Regions from separate parts of the Homo sapiens genome. Here regions 1 and 2 are each linked to region 3. The links come from fine-mapping of genetic effects on gene expression. A gene starts in region 3. Each other region holds a variant in brackets. All regions are shown on one strand. Distances are from middle to middle.

Evidence for each region. PIP is the estimated chance that this variant, and not a neighbour inherited with it, causes the effect.
Region 1: its variant is fine-mapped to the expression of CAPRIN1 in activated naive CD4 T cells (Schmiedel 2018, PIP 0.95).
Region 2: its variant is fine-mapped to the expression of CAPRIN1 in whole blood (INTERVAL, PIP 0.91).

What each region holds. Positions count from the first base shown.
Region 1 is chr11:34,313,619-34,321,618 of GRCh38, forward strand. All of the region lies in intron 1 of ABTB2 (ankyrin repeat and BTB domain containing 2), which reads right to left. Among named protein-coding and RNA genes, the nearest start is that of ABTB2, 40 kb to the right of the region's middle. The variant C/CAAA (reference allele first, on the strand shown) is at 4,143.
Region 2 is chr11:34,169,143-34,177,142 of GRCh38, forward strand. It overlaps ABTB2 (ankyrin repeat and BTB domain containing 2), which reads right to left. Exons shown (of 17, transcript NM_145804.3): 4 at 4,013-4,165; 5 at 1,764-1,929. Among named protein-coding and RNA genes, the nearest start is that of NAT10, 68 kb to the left of the region's middle. RefSeq lists enhancers at 4,441-5,363, 5,364-6,284. The variant C/T (reference allele first, on the strand shown) is at 3,081.
Region 3 is chr11:34,047,028-34,055,375 of GRCh38, forward strand. It overlaps CAPRIN1 (cell cycle associated protein 1), which reads left to right and starts at 4,704. Exons shown (of 19, transcript NM_005898.5): 1 at 4,704-4,844; 2 at 5,394-5,609. The coding sequence starts at 5,394. It overlaps LOC101929918 (a long non-coding RNA gene), which reads right to left and starts at 6,300. Exons shown (of 3, transcript XR_931177.3): 1 at 5,292-6,300; 2 at 3,644-4,006. RefSeq lists silencers at 4,359-4,558, 4,418-4,967, 5,008-5,307 and enhancers at 5,918-5,987, 6,058-6,127, 6,198-6,267, 6,298-6,577.

The sequences.
Region 1 (8,000 bases), 270 kb after region 3:
TACAATACACATTTCATGTAGACGGTGATATCAGCCATGCCACGAAAGTGGGAGAGATGCCACTGGGAGGGCGCACCTGCCTCAGTTTCTTCATCTGTAAAATAGAGGTTATGATAGGACTTTGCAACTCTACGGAGAAACAAGTGGATCTGTGTAAAGCACTCAGTGCCTGATGATGAACACACACTCACTATGTCCAACTATTATTACTAGTATTTCTTACCACCCTTATAATCATAGATTCTCTGTGTAAAAGCCCTCCCCACCGTCCTCAGCAAGGGACTTGCCCCAGCACTGCTGACGTTAAGGCCGAGTTCTCCTTCAAGGTGGGGCAGGTTGGAGGGCACAACCTGGCTCCCACACGGTCCTAGGGTGTGGGTGCTGCCTGTTATGTGGTGAATGGATAAACATGCTCTGGAAACCGAGGGGGCTGGAGGTCCCCAAATTTACAACAGCAAAGGAGAGGGGCTAATGCTGGTCACAGAGTGATGAGGGAAACTACTACCTGAGATACTCCCATGCAGGTGGCTTTAATTCCCTGATATCCAGCACCCCAAAACCCTCGAGGGTCATGTGGAAGGCTGGATAGATGGCCATGTCGCATGCCCAAGAGATCTTCCAGAGCAGCTGGTCTCACCAGACTTGAGGCTGTTCTTCTCGGATATGCTGAAACAGAGAAGAGGCTTCTGCAACCTGTTCACTAAGTGGGTCAGAGATTAGACTCTAACCTCGATGAGGGCGGGACCAGGTCTGTTTTTCTTACTAGGGTATCTGTACTCCAAGGCTGAGCCAGCGCTTGGCACATAGTCCATGTTCAATAGTATTTGTTGCATGAAGAAAGGAATGACTAGAAAAGTCAAATAGATGTGTGTGTTTTAAGGACCTACCATGTGACACACCTGTGCTAGGTGCCACAGGGGCATGATCTTTTCTTCTCTGCACACAGCTGCAAGGGAGAGGTGCTGATGGCTCTCTTTTGAGAGGAGGACACTGAGGCTAGGAGGTCAGTGTCCCCTCAGACCAAGGGCTCATGACTGGTGAGTGGCAGAGCTCAACCTCCCCCTGGTATCCGATGCTGGTGCCTGGATCCTCTTAGAAGGACTGGCTAGATAATTTTCAGGGTCCAGATCAAAATGAAAATGGGAGGCTCCTTGTTCAAAAATTAAGAATTTCAAGGCAGTGATAGCTGATCATTAAGCCAAGTGTGGAGCCCTTCTGAGTGGGGGGCCCTGTGTGACAGCACAGGCTGAGAGTCCATGAGGCTAACCCTGTTCTGAGAGGCTGAGGGTGATGCCGCACTTACAAGGTACAGTCAGCCCCTGTGATGGCCCTAATGGTTTCCATGTTGCCAAGCTCCAACCCAACACTCCAAATGACTTCCCCAGAAAGGCCGCTGCAGATTATCTTACCCTCTTTTCAAAAAACAAAGACTGGAAAAGTCCTCGCCAGAAGGGCTCAAAATTCCATATTAAAAAGAGGCCTGCACTCGCGCGAGCCTGCCTTCTGGACAGTGCATTTGCATGAGGCCACGTGAGCGCAGACACTGTCTGTGGAAACAAGCACGCCTGGCATTTGGAAACTAACTGGGACCAGACCCTTGGTCGAGGAGCCCCAAATTACCACAGAGCAAGTCTCCTGATTAAAACCAGGGCACTGAGGTTCCTGGGTTTCACTGAATAAACACGCCCAGTTCAGGCTGACTGGTTTCAGCTGATGGGGAGAAATGAGTCTATTTGAAATAACCTGTGTCCGGGGCCATCCTGACATGGGGCTCTGAGGGTCTGGGGCTTGGCTTTCCGAGGTTTAGAAGCCCATCTTTGGGAGGTTTTTGAGACAAAGGAAAGCTGTATTGGGCAGCTAAAAAGCTCTGGGGAATACAGGCCCCAATCATTCATGAGGAGGAATGGAAACAATTAGATTGATTCCAGGGATGTGTTCTGGGTTCCCATTCTCCTCTCCTGGCATCCAGTGCCTGTCTCCTCCATCCCTCCTCCCCTGCCCCAATCATAGCTCACCCTCGGCGCTGAGCAGACATGGGCAGGGAGAGAAGGGCACATTCTGGCTGGCCGTAGCCCGGAGGCTTTACTGTGGTAAGTATAGTTCTGAAATGCGCAGGTCTCCTTAAATTCAATTTCCCTTTTCCTATCAGAAATGACACGAGCAGCCACCCCCCAGGTTTCCAGCTGCCTTTCATGGCAGGCTCTCAGTGCTTCTGACACACAGAATTCCCAACACCTGTGCCAGCCAGGTGCCAGGCATCTACCCCTCACAGTGGAGAAACCTGAGGTGGCTTAGCATAACTTCTTCAAGGCGAGCTTATGCGGCAATTTCTAACCAGTCATCGTCAAACTGCTGATTAAATGTTTGCAGTTAAAATGTTAAGAACAAAAGAAAAAATATGTTGCTTTGTTTTATCCAACACTTGACAAGAACTAACTTTGGGATCAAGTGGCCAGGGTTGCTAGAACAAGGCTAAAAATGCCGATGTTCCTCTGCTTCACTCACACTGCAGCAAGGAAACTAACATTCCAGACACCCCGTCCCTGGGCAAGGAGGAGGGGAGACAGCCCTCACTGACAGCACCCAACGTGAGGCTGTGTTTTGTGGTCAGTCCCAGATTCTGGCCATCACAGTGGCACGGATCATACGGACACTGCAAAAGTCGCAAATGGCTCCCTTTCATCCTTTCTTTCAACCATCAGCAAACTGGGGCTCTCTGGATAGACAAGAACTCCTCACAGTAGGTTAGCACTCGCCTTTCAGCAATGATTTCATTTTAAACTCAACTTCAGATCCAGCCCAGCTCTGACTATAATCACAGTGGATGGGCTGAGCCTTCTGCTCCTCTGGGAGGTAAAAGATACTCACTGGATCATTTCCTGCACTCTGCTCTTTTGCTACCCCAAAACCCACAGGCTTGTCAGTGACCGAGTGGCAAACGTGTTTGTCGCAAATATTTCATCATCAACTACAAGGCTGAGCAGTGAAAATACCAAGGCCAAGTTGCTGTTGCCACTGGTGCTGCTGAAGCCCAGCTTTAAGATAATCCATGAGCCCCAGAATATGTTTTTAAAAAAAAATACAGTGTGTACTTGAATGTGATAAAAACCGCACCAATAACAACTGCACACACAGAGTTTCCAAGAATAAATAAAGCTTGGCTGAGCCTGTCCTAATTGACTACATTAAGGGTATACAAAGGACCTGTGTGTGACCAAGACAGTGGTAGCACAGAAGATATGTGGGAAGCTTGTGATACAGTTCTTACCCTGGACACACTAATGACCTCACTGGGGAAGCCCGGGAGGCACATGGGAAAGAACAGAAAGATCTGGACGAAACACTCCAGCCCCATCAGTGTCTGCTTCAAAACTACTGTGCCTGAGGTACTCAGGGCGGTAGAGGCACAAAGCCTGTTTGATTCTGCTCTGCTCATAGGCAACTGACTACAAAACCAACAGAACTAGAACAATTCCAACCAGAGACACATGCAAGAACCCTTGGTACTTCATGCCATAGGTTTTTGGATGTTTAACAAAGACATGACCTCTCTTGTGTAAGTTAAACATGTCACCTGTGCCATCTGTTTATATTCTAGATATGCCTGATGAGCCTGGCTTAGGCAATCTTGCCCTCTGATTCCACTGCCCTCTGTTCAGATCTCCATCACAATCATTAGTACAGTGTTTACAGGCTTTCTACCCTGGAGACTATAATCTTCCTGGGCAAGGGAGTTGGGGGTTTGTCTCCTCTCCCGCATCTTGTATTTTTCCCTTGATTGCGCTCTGCCCACAGACTGCTCAATAAGGGGGCACTGGCAATGAGAGTGCGAAAACAGTAAGAGAAACACTTGGTCAACGAAATTAAGAATGGGCCAGGCATGGTGTCTTACACCTATAATCCCAGCAGTCTGGGAGGCTGAAGCAGGAGGATCGCTTCAGTATAGGAGTTCAAGACCAGCCTAGGTAACATGACAAGACTCCATCTCCACAAAAAAATACAAAAATTAGTCAGGTGCCTGTAGTCCCAGCTACTTGAGAGGATGAGGTGGGAGGATCACTTGAGCCTGGGAGGCGGAGGTTGCAGTGCACCAAGATGTTGTCACCACATTCCAGCCCAGGCAACAGAGCAAAATCCTGTCT[C/CAAA]AAAAAAAAAAAAAAAAAATTAATAACGGCTTTTTAAAAAAATTTCAGATTTGGGGATACATGTGCATGTTTGTTGCATGGGTATTACACACATAATGGTGGGGATTGGGCTTCTAGCATACCTATCATTCAAATATTGAACACTTTACCTAATATGTAATTTTTCAACCCTCACCCCCACTCCTCCCCTCCCCACGTCCCCCTCCCCTACCTCTTTTTTGAGACATAGCCTCGCTCTGTCACCCAGGCTGGATGAAGTACAGTGGCACAATCTTGGCTCACTGCAACCTCCAGCTCCTGGGTTCAAGTAATTCTCCTGCCTCAGCCTCCCAAGTAGCTGGGACTACACGCATGTGCCACCATGCCCAGCTAATTTTTTTGCATTTTTAGTAGAGACAAGCTTTCGCCACATTGGCCAGGCCAGTCTCAAACTCCTGACCTCAGGTGATCCATCTGCCTCAGACTCCCAAAGTGCTGGGATTTATAGGCATGAGTCACTGTGCCTGGCTCCACGTTTTTTGGTTCCTAGTGTCTATTTTTTCCATCTTTATGTCCATGCATACCCATTGTTTAGCTCCCATTTATGAGAACATGTGATATTTGATTTTCTGCTTCTGAGTTCAGTTAGGATAATGGCCTCCAGCTCCACCCATGTTACTGCAAAAGACATGATTCCAAGGAATGACTTATTTTAAAGGCAACCCAGAGACCATCTAGAAAAGTCATTCTCAACACTTTCCCAAGGAGGAAGCTTGGGGTCTGAGGGACCAAGGGACTGGTCTAAGGACACTCAGTTGGCTCGTGGCAGGGCCAGGATGGACCTGAGTCTCAGCTACTAAATACACAATGACGTCATAATAAAAATTCCAACTTAGATTTCTAGGCAGTTGAAAGAAGGTGGTTTTACTAGACTGTGAATCAGCCAGTAAGTACAGAGTCCAAGAGTCCAGAGGATTATTTTCCATTTAATGCCAGCTGGGGAGTCAGAACTCAATGTTCTGAGTTGGGAGGTGACCCATAATGTGATAAGGATCCAGCATGTTGCTCTCAGGTCATCCTTGGGCAGCTTAACCACTAGTCTAAGTAATCTATAAACCCCCCTGTTTGGAGAAACAAGATGTTTTGATGGAGAAATACCAAGAAGTGTCATCTCAGGGCTAAGGAAGGAAGCTTGCATGCCTTTCAAAGGAACTGCCCAGTTATTAGCCTGAGTCAGCTGTAATGTCAAAGGCACCTCTTTCCAGACTGAAATCCTGGAGCCAGAGACTGGCACTGTCTTAGCAAGGATGATGGCCAAGGCCCCTGGAGCTGGGGGATAACATCTTGTCAGCCCCACAGAGTAATAGGAACAGCGCTGGAGTAGACACCACCTCAGACTCTACAACAGATGACCCAGGGAAAGGCAATGAAATGAAATAAAATGCTTCCTGGATCTGACACACAAGAAGCCTTGGCTCAGGCCTTCTTCCCCACAACCCCACCGACTTCAGATGGTCATTATACAGCCAGGTGAAGAAGGTCACAGAGACCTCCCCCTTTGTGATAAAGTCAGAAGAGACCCCAAAGCTTACTGGGATCTCTTTTGGCTTTATCATAAAGGGGCAGGTCCCACCAGGACCAGCTGATGCCTGCACTGGCCAGTATCTAGGCAGCAGGGGAGGAGAAACCTAGGTGTGGGATAGCTCCAAGCCAAGGACAGGTTTGGGACAAAAAGGGAACAGCCAACATACACCAAGTATATGCAGTGCTGTCTGTCACCTCTGAAGTCATTACCAAGGCGGGCTGTGGAGTCAGCCAGACCTGAGCGTGAGCTTCCCACTGTCACTCTTCACACTGTGTGGTAAGTTATTTAACCCCTCCCAGCCTCTGTTTTATCAGCTGGAAAATGAGACACCAGGACTATTTTATTTTATATTTATTTTATTTTATATGAAGTCTCACTTTGGCACCCAGGCTAGAGTTCAGTGGCGTGATCTCTGCTCACTGCAACCTCTGCCTCCCAGGTTCAAGTGATTCTCCTGCCTCAGCCTCCCAAGTAGGTTGGACTACAGGCATGCACCACCACGCCCAGCTAATTTTTGTATTTTTAATAGAGATGGGTTTCACCATGTTGGCCAGGCTGGTCTCGAACTCCTGACCTTAGGTGATCCACCCACCTCGGCCTCCCAAAGGGCTAGGATTACAGGTGTGAGACACTGTGCCTGGCCTCGAACTCCTGACCTCAGGTGATCCACCCACCTTGGCCTTCCAAAGTCCTGGGATTACAGGCGTGACCACCGTGCCTGGCCACTTTTTAGAGAGCAGGTGTATTAAAATGAGCTAGTGAGTATAAAGCATTTAGTTCAGTACTTGAAACATACTAATCTATTAGCACACGTTACTTAATTTTATTTTTATTCTTAACACACAGCTCACTCCCTGAGATCTCTAACAGAGCTGCATATGATTTATGTCTCCCCAAAATATGTGCACAGATGACCCAAATAGAAATTTAATTCTGGCTTTGGAAGGCACTCAGGTTTTGAGAAAAGAGCAGATTTTATTTCTTAAGGATGTTACCCTTGGGCTAACATTTGAATGCTTTGTATTTCCTGGGGGAATTGAAGTCAGAAGGCAGGGTCCTAAAAATGTACTCAGTGGCCGAAGCAGTCTGGTTGATGATTAAAACCTTATCCCTGGATGATCTGAGCTGAAAAGGCCATTTCAGCTGTAGACCATTTCAATGCCTCCACAGGTGTACAGAGATTTATGATAAAAGTCACTTGGATGGATATACCTCACCACAGTAGAATTTCTTCTCCAAAGCAAAGTAGAACTTGAAAGCTCAAGGTGCCATTGGGTGGGCTGGCTGCCTCTTGAATTCTCTCACCTAACCTTCACGAAGGACTTACCCCACAGGCAGGCATATGGGTGTCGTGTGTCCACATTAGACGTCCGTGGAACTCTCTAGAACATACCAGACTAACTTTATCTCCCCTGGGCAATCCCAGCTCACTACTGAGAATGCCTTACTTCTGGTTAGCAAGCAGCACATTCAAGCTTGCCAATCTTCCCCAATACCATTTGTATCTGTCTTTCAGCCAATGTGCACCAAAATCTTCCACAAAGTTTTACTTTGCGCCATTTAAAGATGTTTTACTGGCCAAGTGCGGTGGCTCACGCCTGTAATCCCAGCACTTTGGGAGGCTGAGGTGGGTGGATCACCTGAGGTCGGGAGTTCAAGACCAGCCTGACCAACATGGAGAAACCCTGTCTCTACTAAAAATACAAAATTAGCTGGGCATGGTGGCGCATGCCTGTAATCCCAGCTACTCGGGAGGCTGAGGTGGGAGAATCGCTTGAACCCAGGAGGCGGAGGTTGCAGTGAGCTGAGATCTCACCATTGCACTCCAGCCTGGGCAACAAGAGCAAAACTCCATCTCAAAAACAAACAAACAAACAAAAAAAGATGTTTTACTTTGGGTCAAGTCATTGCAAGGGAGAATGAACAGCTGCGTATTTCTTATTCCACAGAAGCCAAAGCTTCTTAAATGTTTATAGACAACTCATGAGAGTGTGCCATATTCAATTGAAGTTCAACAGGAAAAAGGAGAAATATTCACCAACCAATTGGAAAAAATAAAAACAGTGGTTTAAGCAAGAGAATAAGGATAGACTTTAAAGGTTACTTCTTTTCTGTCTCAAAGTAAATAAAAACCTATTAGAGACAATATTGCTTTATCCAGAAAGATGCCTGTGATGTATCATTGGGATGCACCCGGATGCAAAGCCAACAACTAAAAGTGGCTTAAACAGCCAGGGCGTTATTGTCTCCTGTAAGAAGAGCTGGGTAGGGTAGTTTCAGGGTTGGTTGGTTCT
Region 2 (8,000 bases), 120 kb after region 3:
CTCCCTGCGGACAGACTTGACTTACTTTTTTCTCCACACATCTGTATACAATTTGGAGTTTAAACCAAATGACGGGCCCGGTGAGGAGACACTGCTTTTTCCCTTGTCCCTGTCCCCACGCACTCCAGACATATAAAGAGGCCAAATAAAACCAGGCCGGCTCGCAGATATCAGGCATCATCATCATATCAACAGCAATACGACTACAATAATCATCATATTGGCAATAAAAACCGGAATGAACATTTAGTGAGTGCTGACTATGTGCTGGATGCAGACTTCCCCCAACCCTATGTGTCAGGTGCTACCATCCCCCATCTTAGAGGGGAGGAAACTGAAGTGCCTCAGGGAGGCAGAGTAACTTGTTCAAGATGCTACAGCTCTTACATGGCCACTAAATCCTAGGTCTATCTGAAGCTAAAGTCCACGGGCTTCCACACTGTGCTGTTCAAGAAGGAAGACTCCACTGGGACAAAAGCTCCCACAAAGCCCGGGAACCTGTGTGGACGGAGAGGCCCCCACGAGATCCCACAGCAGCCTGTCACCTGCCACTGCCCTCTGGAAGTCCAGTGCTGGGCCTGTGGTCCTTCCCCAACCCCTGGCCTGGGTCCACGCCCTGACTGCCCCACCCCACACTCCTTATGTCCCTTTCCCTGGAATCCCTTCCTGACTCCTCTCTGCTCCGTCCCCATCCTGCCCTCCCCCAGGCTCGGCTCAACCGCTTCCAGCAGGAAGCTTCCCCTTGCAGCCCATCCCATCTGTCAGGGTCCACCCTGGCCTCACGGTCTGCCTGGAGTTTCATCACAGGCTGCATTGTGCCGTCACCTCATCTGAGAACACTGCCTTAACTCGCCACTGTCATCTAACTCCCCATGCTCTGTGTGGCCTTCCAAACCCCACAGTGCCCTTCCGCACACTGTAAGTGCTCTCAGTACAGTGTCAAATAAACACACAGGATATTCCATAGTGGTTGAGAGGCTGGGTCCAGCTGCTCAGATTCTCCACCCAGCTCTGCTCCTTACTAGTGGTGTGACCTTAGGTAAAGCAACCTCTCTGTCCCTCAATTTCCTCATCTATACAATGGGGAAAATAATAGTGCTACATCACAGGGCTGCTGTCAAGAGGAAGTGAGTTAATCTATGTGAAGCACTTAGAACAATGCATCGAACATAGTAAATGCTATATAAATGGTAGCTGTTCACAGCAAAAGTAAAAAACAAAACAGATGCGAAACTCAAGTTAAAGCCTATCTAAAACTACATCACCTCCCACATTTCCTACCCATTTTCATGCTTCATTTTAGTCCTCAGCACTTTAACATCCTCTACATTTTACATGTCTGTGTTTCTTCTTATCTGTCTCCTGCACTAAAATGGTATCTCCATGAGGACAAGGGTTTCCATGCCCTGGCAAGTAGTTGGCACACAATAGGCTGTACTACAGGGTTAGCGATCGTGTCCCTAGCTGGAGATGAAGCTCACTCTCCCAGACTCGTTCCTAGCCTTGCACCACCTGAAACAGTGGCCAGCTGTCCAGCCAGGGAAGCGGAAGCCACATGACAAAGTTCTTCCAAGGGATACTAGAAGTCTCCAAGCTGACATTCCACATGACCAGGCAGGGCAGGATTCAGGGAGGTAGCCCGCCTTTTCGAAGTACAGAGCTGAGCAAATCTCAGGGTTAGGACAGAGGGCCGCCAATGCTGGGAGCTGAGAATTCCCAACTCTGGTCCTCGTGCCTGTCTTTGTGGAGCTCTCAGGACGTACCTGGTCATCCATGGTGTTAACCCCATCCGGACCCAAGGCCTCGATGGCTTGGTTGATGAGGTCCGTCCTCCCACAGTTGAGCATGCGGAAACCCAGGTCCTGGTTGAATTTTTCAGTAGCTGCTCGGGCATCCAGCCTCCGGAAGGAACTGAAACAGTGTTCGGGTCTGCCCAGAAGAGACCCAAAGGTGCGTGTGACTGTATGCAGACAGCAACTTTCAATGATGTGACACACATGTGTGAGCTTTACGTGTAGAGTGAGGATGAGGATGGGTGGGAAGCACCAGGGAGTTATGATCAGATCAGCAATTACTGTCCCCATCATGTTCTGTCATATGAAGAGCACACATTTCTGCTTTTCTATAAGTACATTAAAAAATTGCTTGGGAGGTAGGTTCAGTGGCTCACACCTGTAATCCCAGCACTTTGGGAGGACAAGGCAGGTGAATCACTTGAGGTCAGGAGTTCAAGACCAGCCTGGCCAACATGGTGAAACCCTGTCTCTACTCAAAATACAAAAATTAGCCAGGCGTGGTAGCATGTGCCTGTATCCCTACTAATCAGGAGTCTGAGGCAGGAGAATAAATTGAACCCTGGAGGCAGAGGTTGCAGTGAGCCGAGATTGTGCCACTGTACTCCAGCCTGGACAATAGAGCAAGACTCTGTCTCAATCAATCAATCAATAAGTAAGTAAGTAAGTAAGTGTTCTGAGCCCTTGTTGCTTCAACTGGCAGAAAACAAAGACTCATGTAAAACAATCTGTTATGGGTCTGCCCCAAGCAGGAAGCAGCTCCCACCCAGACTCATGCCTCAGCACTTGGCTGTATACTGTTTGTGTTGAGCAGGCTGCACTCAGCCTATAAACGGTCACCATGGCCAGGTTCTAGTATTTAGCTCTACATTCTCTCTCTTTAAGGCTTCCTGGTGAGGCTCAGAAGTACCAAAGAGATGGTAGAGAGTAGCATAGACTGCCATTTGCAATCAACGCAACCTACAAGGAAAGTCACAGATAATGCCTGTGTTATAGGGGGCGCATCACAGACGTCCAGTTGGCAGCTTTGGTCTGGAGCCTTGGTTGGGCCAAAGTGTAGAAAATTCATGTCCTAGAATGGGGTTTGGGCCTTCCGTATGAAGACAGAGGAGGCCATAACCTGGGTTTTGGCAGAGGGTTAAAAAAAAGATATAAGGCCAGGAGCAGTGGCTCACGCCTGTAATCCCAGCACTTTGGGAGGCCAAGGTGGGTGGATCACCTGGGGTCAGGAATTTGAGACCAGCCTGACCAACATGATGAAACCCAGTCTCTACTAAAAATACAAAA[C/T]TACCCAGACGTGGTGGTGCGTGCCTGTAATTCCAGTTACTTGGGAGGCTGAGGCAGGAGAATCGCTTGAACCCAGGAGGCAGAGATTTCAGAGAGCCGAGATCACACCATTGCACTCCAGCCTGGGCAACAGAGTGAAACTCTGTCTCAAAAAAAAAAAAAAAAAAAAAAAAATATATATATATATATATATATATGTGTGTGTGTGTGTGTATATAGATAGATAGATAGATAGATAGATAGATAGATAGATAGATAGATAAAAGGCTCTCATGGGCCTAGGATGGCCAGGGACGCTTCTCTAGAAAAGCTCCTCAGCAAACAAGTCTACTGTGAGAGGCATTTAGGGAAGGAAATTAGGAGCACAGGCTTGGAGGCCGTATGGACCTGGGTTCAAATCTGGGCACGGTAAAGTGCTAGCTGAGTATCTGTGGGCAAGCTACTGTTCCCCTCTGACCCTCAGCTTCTTCATCTGTAAGATGGGCATGATTGCCTCTTCCCTGCACTTGTCATGAGGACTAAGATAATGCACATAAAGAGGAAGGGCTCACAGCACCTGCACCCAGGAAGGGCTCCATGTGGTGTCAATTACAGGAACAGAGGAAAGAACGGGCCCACTTCTGCCCCTCAGTCCCCAAGTATCCCAAAGAGTTAGATGTGTGGGCTCTCCTGCCCCAGTCCCAATGTGTGTCTCCTCTGTGTAGCAGACCAGCAGCTGCAGGAGACGTTTCCAGACAGCAGCCAAAGTCTACAATAGATCTGTTCCCATACTCAGGCTTGGCCTTTGCAGAGGACACCCTTAGAACAGCTCAAATGTGCTGCAGCCCCTGCTCTCTGACCCCCGCCCAGCCATCTGGGGAAGAAGCGAGCAGAGGGGAGCCGCTGGGGGCAGGTCATGGATGCCGGGGCCCTCCCTCCTCCCTGGTTCATACTTGAGCTGCCGAGGTTCACAGTCCAGACCAGGCAGCAGCAGCCGGGCTGCCTGCCGGATGTCGCCGCTGTCCACGGTGAGGCTGCGGCGGTGCTCTGCGTAGGTGATGGCCACGCGCATCCACTCCATGAGGGGCGGCAGCAGCATGAAGGGCCTGTGGGGCAGCAGAGAGAGGGTCAGGCCTGGGGTGGGGTCCCTGCAGGGCAGCAGAGAGAGGGTCAGGCCTGGGAGGGTGCTTCTTGTGGGGCAGCAGAGAGAGGGTCAGTCCTAGGGTGGGGGGCTCCCTGCTGGGCAGCAGAGGGTCAGGCCTAGAGAGAGTGCTCCCTGAAGGGCAGCAGGGGACCCCTTAAGCACACACATGCTCACAAGTGGCAACCAAGGCTGATCACCCCTTGCAAGGGACCTGCTCTTTCTGCTCACAGAGACCCCGACTACCTGCAATGCACAGAAGGAATTTCCATCATGGGCCATTAGCAGAACCTGAGGGCCCTCAGGTGGCCCAGGGAAGGAGCAGTTCCCCAGTGTGTGGAATTGGGGACCTTTCCCCCTCCAAAGAGTTCAGTCAGGGTCGCCAAGTGTTCTTCTATGCAGAGGGGAGAGGCTGCACAGCTAAGAGTCTCACAGACCCAGGTCCAAACCCAGGGCTGCCACCAGCAGGGTCAGGTCACCATCCCCTCCGACAAGCACACTCGAGTCTGGTTCTCCATCTGTAGCACACGTGTGATACCTCCTTATGGAGGCTGTCATGAGGCCAAATGGGATGATGCATATTAGGCTGTTGTACAACATTAATGACCACTCCTTCCTCATCTGGCACCTAGACTGAGGTGGGCTGACACCACTTCGTGTGCCAGGCCAGGTTGCCCCCAGTTTGGTGCTCAGAAAAGAGTAGTGGCCTCGGCCGGGCTCGGTGGCTCACGCCTGTAACCTCAGCACTTTGGGCGGCCAAGGTGGGTGGATCACGAGGTCAGGAGATCGAGATCATCCCGGCTAACACAGTCTCTGTTAAAAAATACAAAAAATAAGCCGGGCTTGGTGGCGGGCGCCTGTAGTCCCAGCTACTCTGGAGGCTGAGGCAGGAGAATGGCGTGAACCCGGGAGGCGGAGCTTGCAGTGAGCTGAGATCGCGCCACTGCCCTCCAGCCTGGGCGACAGGGCGAGACTCCGTCTCAAAAAAAAAAAAAAAAAAAAAAAAAAGAAAGAAAAAGAGTAGCGGCTTCAAGTCCCACAGGGAGGAATGGTCCTAGCGGGTCCGAGTATCACTAAGAGCCCACAAAAGCAGGGAAAGGCGGCGGCAGGCTTAGAGCTGCAAACTCCCGGGGCGCCGCTCATGAGGCCCGCTCTGTGCCACCAGGGGACGCCATGTGCACAGCCTGTGCTGGGCCCTGACTGCGGCTCAGGCCGCGCCCGCCCCTGCCCTCGGCGAGCGGCTCAGATTCAGCTGGGGGGCGGGGACGCGTTTCTGTCCTCTGCCAGCTCTGGCAAGGCTCCGTGTTGGAGCCCCCTCAGGAGACCACTTCGCCGTCCAACAGACCTCCCCGCCACCGAGGGGCCCGGATGGCAGCCTGTGGCTTCATGACTTCGTGGGACACCCACCTGCTCTGCCCAGAATGGACGGAGCTCTTTCCCTGCTCCATCACAGGAACAAGGCAGCCCTGGAGCCCTGTCCCTCACTCATGCTGTTCTCTCTGATGACAGCCCAAAAGTCAGCCTCCCGGCTCCTGCCTGTTCCCAGCCCTTCCCGATGCCACTCTTGTCCTTCCTTACAAATTAAGCCAGGGAGCGGGCAGGCAGCCAGGGGCAGGCGGCCAGGCCTCCAGCCACCCCAACTCCCTCGGGGCTCTTGGAGCGTCCCGCCTGTGCGGTCACTGTGGTCTCTCCCCTTGACATGCAGCTAAGTGCTCCCGCCAGGGAAAAGATGTCCATTCTCTCTCCTTGGCTAGGAAGTAAGCCACCTCCAGGGAGTCAGCCTGGGCTGCCCTCGGAACCCCTATCTCAGGTCTCCAAAAGCTCGGGTCATCTCCAGAGTTCTAAAAGTTTCTTCTCTCCTTGAGGGCAAAGAATGCTTTTATTTTAAAAAGTGGCAAACAAATATAAATGCTCCTTGACTTAGGATGGGGTTACATACCAATAAACCCATAGTAAGTTGAAAATATCCTAAGCGAAAACGCATTGAATACACCTCACCTACTGAATAGCCTACCTTAAACATGCTCAGAACACCTACATTAGCCTACAGTTAGGCAAGATTATATAAGCCAAAACCTGTTTTATAATAATGTTGAACATCAGTGTAACTTACTGAATACTGTATGAAAGTGAAACAGAATTGTTGTGTGGGTACTCGAAGTAGTTTCTACTAAATGCATATCGCTTTCACACCACTGTAAAGCTGAAAAATTGTAAGTTGCACCATCATAAGTTAGGGATTTTCTGTAATCAGAAGTGATCTTAAAGGTCTTTCCTTTGGGAAGGTATTCTGATGTTCTGGTTCTGTCATTTCCAATATTCCTGGGTTTGAACCACTTAACTGGTCCACTGAGCATACCAATCTGTATGAAGGGGAGGGCCACAGGCCAGTAAAGCCTCACTATCTCTGGCCCTCAAGGACTCCCAGAACCTCACCTCACCCTATCTCCTGCCGTGACTCACCCCTGTTACCAGGACACACCACCAGCACTCATGGACCTCAGGCCCACCCTGCCTGCTCCCATCTATGCATGAGAACGAACAGCTCTCACCCCTGCTTGTCTAGATCCTATTTATCCTTCAAGACTCCATTCCAATGCCACCTGCTTCAGAAGCCTTCCCAGATTCTCTCTCCCCACCCCCCCAAAAAAAAGGGGGGCTGGGTGCGGTGGCTCACGCCTGTAATCCCAGCACTTTGGTAGGCTGAGGCAGGTGGATCACAAGGTCAGGAGTTCGAGACCAGCCTGCCCAATATGGTGAAACCCCGTCTCTACTAAAAATACAAAAGTTAGCCGGGCGTGGTGGTACTCACCTGTAGTTCCGGCTACTCAGGAGGCTGAGGCATAAGTATCGCTTAAACCTGGGAGGCAGAGATCGCAATGAGCCGAGATCATGCCACTGCACTCCAGCCAGGGTGACAGAGTGAGACTCCGTCTCAAAAAAAAAAAAAAAAAAAAAAAGAGAAAGAAATATCTTCCTGCTCTGAGATCACTGAAAACTTTCCTTTACAGCAATAGCCATGAATGCATGTTGTCTTCCTAACCAGACTGTTCCTTCTAAGCACGGGAACAATGACTTCCTCATCTCTGTATTCTCTGAAATATGACCAGCCTGGGGCCTGACATGGCAGGTCCTCAATAAATGTTCACTGAAGCCAGGCCTGCTGGCACACGCCTGTAGTCCCAGCTACTTGGGAGGCTGAGGCAGGAAGACAGGTTGAGCCCAAGAGCTGGAGGCTACAGTAAGCTATGATCGCACCACTCCCCTGCAGCCTGGGAGACAAAGAGAGACCGTGTCTCAAGAAAACAAACAAACAAACAAAATTATTAGTAGAAAGTTTTGCTGAGTGACAAAAAGTATGGATGAACATCAGTAACTTACTATAGTGTACCCAGGTTTTCAGTTATGGACCAAGTCATGTTTCTGCCCAGAAAAGAATGGTGTATAATTTTCAAGAGCCTAGTGTTGACTCATTAGAGTAGGAAGCTGAGATTCTATGGGGGGATCTTGTGTAGTCTAGGAAGAAACAACAATCTATTCATGAATTATCCCTCTGTTTATAAGAGTTCCCTTAAACATAAATGCCCAATTCCCCCCAAATATTTTTAGATTTCACAATTCTTATATTACAGGGCTGGAAGGCAAGCTTACAGACATGCTTCTATATATCAGTCCTTCTGATTGCAGGAAAAGCCTTTATTTCAACCATCAGCATTGGAGACTGAAGTGTAAACAAAAAGATAATCCGTGGATTTGCCAGCCATTCTTCCCTATTGTGGCCAACAGCCAAGACAAAGCAC
Region 3 (8,348 bases):
TGATCCGTCTGCCTTGGCCTCCCAAAGTGCTGGAATTACAAGCATGAGCCACCGTGCCTGGCCAGTGACTACATCTTTTATCTCATAAAATAGAACAGCATTTCCCAAACTCGGCATTATTGATGTTTTGGTCTGAATAATTGTGTGTTGTTTTGTGCATTGTAAGATGTTTAGAAGCATCTTTGGCCTCTACAAACTGGATGCAATTAACATCTTCCCCTCAAGTTGTGACAACTAAATACTTCTAGACATTGCTAGTGATTTGGTGCTTAGGAGACCTTTAAATCAAGTGTCCCCGAGGGACAAAATCACCACAGGTTGGGAACCACTGAAATAGAAACATGATGTTAAGACAACATACAATTCATATAAGTAACTATATGAAAGATTTTAGTACCTGTGGCCAAGGTGTTTTTGCTTTTAAAACATTTTTATTTTTAGGCTGGGCGCAGTGGCTCAGGCCTGTAATCCCAGCTCTTTGGGAGGCCAAGGCAGGTGGGTTGCCTGAACTCAGGAATTTGAGGCCAGCCTGGCCAACATGGTGAAATCCTGTCTCTACCAAAAATACAAAAATTAGTCGGGCATGATGGCATGCACCTGTAATCCCAGCTACTCGGGAGGCTGAGGCAGGAGAACCACTTGAACCCAGGAGGTAGAGATTGCAATGAGCTGAGATCTTGCCACTGCACTCCAGCCTGGGCGACAGAATGATACTCCATCTCAAAAAAATAAATAAATAAAATAAAATAAAAATAAAATTTTTATTTTTTAGATGCTGGGTTTTACTCTGTTGTCCACGCTGGAGTGTAGTGACATGATATTGCATCCTCGAACTACTGGGCTCAACTAATGCTCTCATTTCAGCCTCCCGAGTAGCTGGGATTTCAAGCACATACCACTGTGTTTACTTTTACATTGAGTAAAGTGTGTAGCTTCTAAGAGTGTTCAATAACAAACAACAGTATTTCGTGAAATCTGAAATAACTATTCTGAACATATTGTACCTCTACAAAACATGAAGTCCTGTTTCTAAGCATAATATTACACGCAAGAAAAGGTGGACATAGGAAAATATAAGCGGAAAAGGATGTTATCTCAGCTGATGACCAAAATGTAAGAATTCAGAGACAGTATGGACCAATAGTAATAATAATATTAAAACCGTACTGATATGTTAATACAGTAGGCAATACTTAGTGACAAAATAGTTGTGCCAGGCATGCTATTGCTTATGAGGATCCAGAGATGGAAAAACAAAACGACTGCTCTTTTTCTTTGAAAAGCTTAGAGTTTAGTGGTGGTTCATGGACACATAGACAATCATTGATTGAATTACAATAAAAAAGACTGTACTGGAAAAATTATGATAGAAATGTCTACTCCTGACTTGTAGTAAAATGATGGAAAAACAAATTTAAGAAACTTTAAGAGCCTTAGCTATGTGAACAGTGTAGTTCACACTTTGGTCAGGTTTCTGTCAACCTGAAACAAAGAGGCAGTTCATATAATTCAGATGAAGATTCCTCTCTTTTGCTACAAATAAGCATTAGCTTATTGGGTGACTCAAGTTCAAGCAGTTGAATTATTTTGCTAAAATGATCAGGATAAATAGTTTAATTATTCACTTTGTGGAAACTTCAAAGTGCTGTGGTCTAATGAATTGAACAAGCAAATGTCAGCTTGAAAGATTTGTTATTGAAATATATTATTTTGCATATTGTTGTATTTGCTTTATGTTAATATATTTAATATTGGCATATATTAAAGTATACCAAGGTTTTTAAATTTATAAACCATTTATAAACATATTCTGCTCCTCCAGTGTGTTTTCTGGGAACCCTTTATTTCTTCAATGATGCAATGACTGCAAGTTACTGCATAGCTCTGTACTAGAAAAAAGGGTTTAAAAAATGAGTATTTAAAATTCACATAAACATAGCTTCAGTCAAGTAGGAAATACACAAATTTGAATGACTGAGACCTTGGCATTGATCTGGGCAGGAAGTGAGCTTTAGGACACAGCTTTGCCTTAAATTTATTGGTCTTTCTGGACTTGCTGACCTGAACAGACAAACGCAGAATGTCAGAACACCAATGAAATGGGATTGGGATGATATAGGAAGTGAAAGCGTGACAGCTTCATATATTCACCAAATATTTCTGGCTCATCTGCTTCCTACCCGGCATCTGATAGAATACCATCTCTTGACTCCCTTATAGTTGGATAGGGTCATGTGACTCTTTTTGGCCAATGAATTTAAGCAGATGTGATGCATATCTACTTGTCTAAAGCATTTAATTGACTGAGATATTCCTGAGTTCTCTTGTGGTACAGTGATCAGCAACACTTGAGATATGGCATCAGCATGAATCTACTGAGTGACTACTACGAACAGGGCCCTCTGTTGAACTGTGATGGATGTGTACCATTTGCAGTTGTTTTTTGTTTTTTGAGACAGTCTCACTCTGTTGCTTAGGCTGGAATGCAGTGGCACAATCTTGGCTCACTGCAGCCTCTGCCTCCCGGGTTCTCGTGCCTCAACCTCCTGAGCAGCTGTAATTACAGGCATGCGCCACCACACCCAGCAAATTTTTTTGTATTTTTAGTAGAGACAGGATTTGCCATATTGGCCAGGCTGGTCTCGAACTCCTGACCTCAAGTGATCTGCCAGCCTTGGCTTCCCAAAGTGTTGGAATTACAGGCATGAGCCCCTTCACCTGGCCCCTTTGTAGTTTTAAACCAGGGATTGGCAAACACTTTTTTTGTAAAAGAAGAGATAGTATTCTAGGTTTTGCACACCCTACTGTCTGTTGCACACCCAAGTACTCAACTCTGCTGTGCTATGGCAGAGAGGCAGTCATAGAATGGATGTGCATAGATGGATTGGATGTCTCCCAATAAAACTTTAGACATTGGTCAATTCCGAGGAACAAAACAGTGATTTCTGAAACTTTAATGTACACACAAATCTCCTGAAGATCTTGTTAAAATGTAGATTCAGTTAAGTCTGCTATGCAGTCCAAGATAGTAGTGATAGTGGTAGTGAGAGAGGTTGGGCTGAATAAACTTTGAGTTGCAAGGAGCTAAAGGATTATCATCTCCGTTTCTAGCCTCTAGGCCTGGCATAATTGCTCAGCGTAGTGCTAAGGATGGTTTAGGTGACTAAATTTTGAAACTATGACTCCCCATCTAATGCAGCAAAAGCCAAAGTCCTTACCGTGGTCTTTCAGGCCCTACAAGACCAGCCCCCTTTAATATGTTTGACCTCATCTCCTACTCTCTGCTCTTGCCACTATGGTTTCCGTGCTGTTCCTTGAACCCAAAAAGCACACTCCGTCTCAGATCTTAGTACTTGGTGTTTCCTCTACCTGGAAAATTCCTCCTCCAAGGTAGCTGCTTAGCCTTCTTCCTCACTTCCTTCAGTACTAGCTCAAATGTCAGTAAGGCTTTCCCTGACCACCGTTTTTTCTTTTCTCTACCATTTCACTATCTGACATGTATTTACTTGTCTTCCCCTTACTTAGATTGTAAGCTCCATGTAAATATGTTTTGTTCATAATCCCTAGCACTTAAGAGTTCCCAGCACACAGTAAGGTGCTTAATAAATATTTGAATGAATATATAACAGACTTTGCAGCTAACCAGGATATCTTGAGGTCGGAGGCTGCTGTTGTTTCTCCAGGCTCCCTCAGGATGCACTGTTGCCAGTCAGCGTTACTCATTTTATTCCCTAGGGAACAGTGGGTTTGGTAGAACTCTCTTCTAAATCTCTTTTTCATAGAATTTAAATTATAAATTGGTCATTTACTGTTGTCACACAATATTGCGTTGCTGAATTTTCCACTGATTATATTCATTTTATTTCCTCCCAGAACTTGGTTTCTTGTTTTTCTGCTCACTGTCCACACCCACTCCACCCCAAGGCTGGAATAATTCTCTTGGAGCAAAAAAATCATCTTTTTCTTTGTATTTCATTGAACGTTCTCTTTACAGTGTTAGGTAAACCTAAAAAAAAAGGAAACAAAAGTCTAATAATTCGTAATACTCAGGCCTACTGGATGTATAACATCATAGGGTAGCTGAAGACTCTTTGTGAGGCCAGAGCTTTAGGATTTAAAAAGCCACCAACCATGACCGTGTCCGACACGTTCTACAGAGAACTCCTAGGTTACTGGGTGATTGTTTGGTGGGGAAGCGGCGAGTTGTCTTTTTTTCAAAAGACGTTTTGGGGTATGGAGTTTGCTCGCTCTGCATACAGAAGGAATTCTAGAAGCTGGGATCGCACCACCCACCCCACGCACCCCTTACTTGCAGAAACCTTTGCCCCCCAACCCCCACCCCCACCCCAAATAAGGGCTCTTCAAGGGGCAGTTGCCAGCTCCAGAGCCAGCTGCTTGACACCTATTGTCCCCGTTTGGGCGTCAAACGATTTCGCCTGAAGGACCCTAGCGTCGATTGCTCTCAAAACTCAAGGGGCCTTTCCTTCGGCCTTGCCGGGGCCATCCCCACCTGCGTCCAGGAGGCGCCCCACAGCGCCGGGGCCGGGGGACGGCGGAGAAGCTAGCGGGCGGCCTCTTCCGGGCAGGCGTTCGCGCCGGGCAGCCCGAGCGGCCGCGAAGGCCCCCGCTCTCCGCTTCTCCCGCCCCTCGCGACCCAGAGGGCTGCTGGCTGGCTAAGTCCCTCCCGCTCCCGGCTCTCGCCTCACTAGGAGCGGCTCTCGGTGCAGCGGGACAGGGCGAAGCGGCCTGCGCCCACGGAGCGCGCGACACTGCCCGGAAGGGACCACCACCCTTGCCCCCTCAGCTGCCCACTCGTGATTTCCAGCGGCCTCCGCGCGCGCACGGTGAGCGCCACCCGGGACCGAGCCGCTGCAGGGGAAGAGGGCCGCTGCGCCCGGGTGTCCTTTATCTCCGGACCCGCTGGAGCTTCCGAGGGGCTTGCCCCCAAGTCCCCCCACCCCACCCCGGTCATTTCCCATGCCCTTCTCTGCCCCCAAGCCCCGACCTCTCTCTTTCCTCCCTTCTCCGGAAGCCGGCAAAAGCCGGCCCTCCCCGGTAGGGACCGTTGCAGTGGCCGTTGGCGGCCGGCGCGGCGATGCCCCGCCTCCGGCGCGAGCCTCGGAGCCCCCGGGCTGGTAGGCCGAGCCGGCGGCTCCGCGGGGGAGGGGCGGGTCGGGGGGCGGTGCGAGGCCCAGCCGGGCGCCCCGCTGGCGGGTCGCGCGCGCGCCCGCGCACTCTTCCTGCCCTCGAGGCGCGCCGCGCCCCCTCCCCCACCCGCTCGCGTAGGCTACCGCTCGCTGCGCGTTTTGTCCCGCGTCTCGCCCCGTCCGTCTCCTGACTGGCCGCTCTTGTCCTTCCTCCCGCTTTTTCTTCTCTCTCCTTGCGGTCTGAAGATGCCCTCGGCCACCAGCCACAGCGGGAGCGGCAGCAAGTCGTCCGGACCGCCACCGCCGTCGGGTTCCTCCGGGAGTGAGGCGGCCGCGGGAGCCGGGGCCGCCGCGCCGGCTTCTCAGCACCCCGCAACCGGCACCGGCGCTGTCCAGACCGAGGCCATGAAGCAGATTCTCGGGGTGATCGACAAGAAACTTCGGAACCTGGAGAAGAAAAAGGTGCCAGGAGTTGGCGGGGAAGGGAGGGGTGGCTGCGGCCGGGCTCTGCGGCCCCTCCGACCCTGGTCGCTGGAGCCTTCGCTTCTTTTCGTCTCGGGAGCGTTACTAGGTCCCCTCCTCCCACCCCCTGGCCCACACGCCCCGTCTCCACGTTCAGCGGGAGCTTCGTGCCCAGAAAACGGGCTCTTGGAAGAGGCACTTGTCACCTGACTCGGACGCGGCACTGTACCCCAGGCCTCTTTATTACTCTTCCGCTGTGGGTCCGGCTTTTTGGCCTTTAGGAGTGGGACATGTGAGGGTGGGGGCCTGTCGTCAGGACTTCACTGTATGGTGCCCTTCTTTCCGTCTCTGAGGCCCGATTTCTCTGACGAGGGCCCAAAATGAAGAGGTCCCTGCGCGGGGGGCTCCGGGTTCAACCGACCGCCTCGTGGAGTTGGGGCGGCCTGCGTCCTGCAGCCTTGGGGTCTGTCCGCTCGGTTACCATGCACTCGAGACCTGTCGAGCGTCCCCTCTTCTTCCGTAGGAGAGAAGTGTGTTTAGAATCTTAAGGTAGAACTGCCTTTCCGGCAGGCCCATTTTGAATGGGTCTTCGATTTGCTACCCCCGCGCCCATGCGATGGGCTCCCCTGCGTTTCCCTCTTTGTTTCAATTGTTTAGGTGTCCCCCCGAGCCTCAGGCTCAGCTCAATCGCGAGATGATTTTCTGCAGCGACTTTTTGTTCCTAGGGGACTGTGAAGGGGCGGGGGACTGCCACGATTTAGATTCGTTGGGGGCTGGGTCCTGGGGAGACTGGAGAGGATGGCTGGGACTCGGGGCACATGGAGAGAGCGTCTAACATGGCGGCGGCTGCGGGGAGAGGGAAGCGCTTTACTGGAGCTGCATTGTGAGCACAAAGCGAAAGCAGAGGGGGAGGGCAGAGACCAGGCAGCCGCCCCGACTGGCCTCCTTAGGCCCCCCTCTAAAAAAAAAAAAAATCGAGCCACACCCACGATTTTTTGGATTCAATATTTAGTCCTTGTAGATCAAACTACTGAGGTATATCTTCATCTGCAAGTCAGCCTTTTGTTTTATGCTTTCATCGCAGGACAGTGTAAACTCTTGTTTAGAGGGGCGTGTGTATGTATGTAGAGAAAAGGTCTGGGCAGAGTGAATAATTAAAATGAGTAAGATCAGAGGTGGAAGGGGAGAAACAAATTAGTCGTTTGTAAAAACGAGGTAATTACGTCTGTGACTATCATGTTAACTTGAATTTTACCTTATAAAGTAAAATGAAGCCTTGATAACTTCTACTTGTCTGCCTCTAGGAAAACATATTTATAACATCTTGAATTTCCAGGAAATCATTTTGCAGTGTTTATGTGGCCAGACACCTAATAGTGTTACTTGAGGTGCTGATATAGTAACTGGCTAAAACTTGGGCTGTGGGAAATAAGTTGAAGAAAACTGGTGATGTTTAGGTCTTATTAATTTTACTTATATATTTTACATTTTGGGAGAGTTTTAAAACATTTAGATTTGATACTTCCCTGTTTCATCTTCGGTATTGAAGGTTGGAAGTTTTACTTGAATTTCATGGACTTGGGATTTCTTTTTTTTCCCAATCCTTTATTTTGATAAATGTATGTTTTATTATAGGTAATTGGAATAGTAAATGTAGTTACATCAAGAAAGTAACAAAAGTATTTTAAGTGTAAGGTAGCTACATTCAAATGTTGAATGGAATAAGCATGCCCAAGGCCAGTATCTTCTGAGTCTGACACATGATTTAGTTTACCCTGTTGGGTATCTTCTTAAATTTTTTTTTTTTTGAGACGGAGTTTCGATCTTTTTGCCCAGGCTGGAGTACAATGGCGCGATCTCAGCTCACTGCAACCTCCACCTCCCGGGTTCAAGCGATTCTCCTCCCTCAGCCTCCCAAGTAGCTGGGAGTACAGGTGCCTGCCACCACGCCCAGCTAATTTTTTGTATTTTTAGTAGAGACAGGGTTTCACCCTGTTGGCCAGGATTGTCTCGATCTCTTGACCTCCTGATCCGCCCGCCTTGGTCTTCCAAAGTGCTGTTACAGGAGTGAGCCCCTGTGCCCGGCCTCTTTTTAAAATTTTAATGCAGTAAGCAAGCCTGCTGATCTGGCTGCTACTTGAGTTTTTGATTCTTTAGAATTTCTTGGAAATGTTTTTTTCTAGGACAGTAATTGAACATAAAATATTAATGATTGTGAACATTAATAATGTGTTAATACTAATTATGAACATTAATGATTAGTGATATAAAGTGTAGAGACATTAATGACTGAAAGATAACTCCTCAGAGAAGTTAATATAAAGGTAGGTGCTGATTGGCAGCCAATTTAGTTGTGAGGTGGCTGTTAGAATCTAGTGTTCAAGTACTTCTGAAAAAAAAATATAAATCTAGTTTATAAGCCCCTCCTGAGGACTTGAACCATGACTGGTCATTAAATGTGTATAGGTGTATGTGAATTACTATACTCTGTCATACCCTACCCTCAAGTGATTTTGTTATTTTATTTTTATTTTTTGAGATGAATCTCTGTTGCCCAGGCTGGAGTGCCCAGGCTGGAGTGCGGTAGGATGATCTTGGCTTCCTGCAACCTCCACCTCCCGGGTTCAAGTGATCCTCCCGCTTCAGCCTCCTAAGTAGCTGTGATTACAAGTGTGCGCCACCACCCCAGGCAATTTTTTTTTCTTTGAGAAGTCTCGCTCTTGTCCGCCAGGCTGGAGT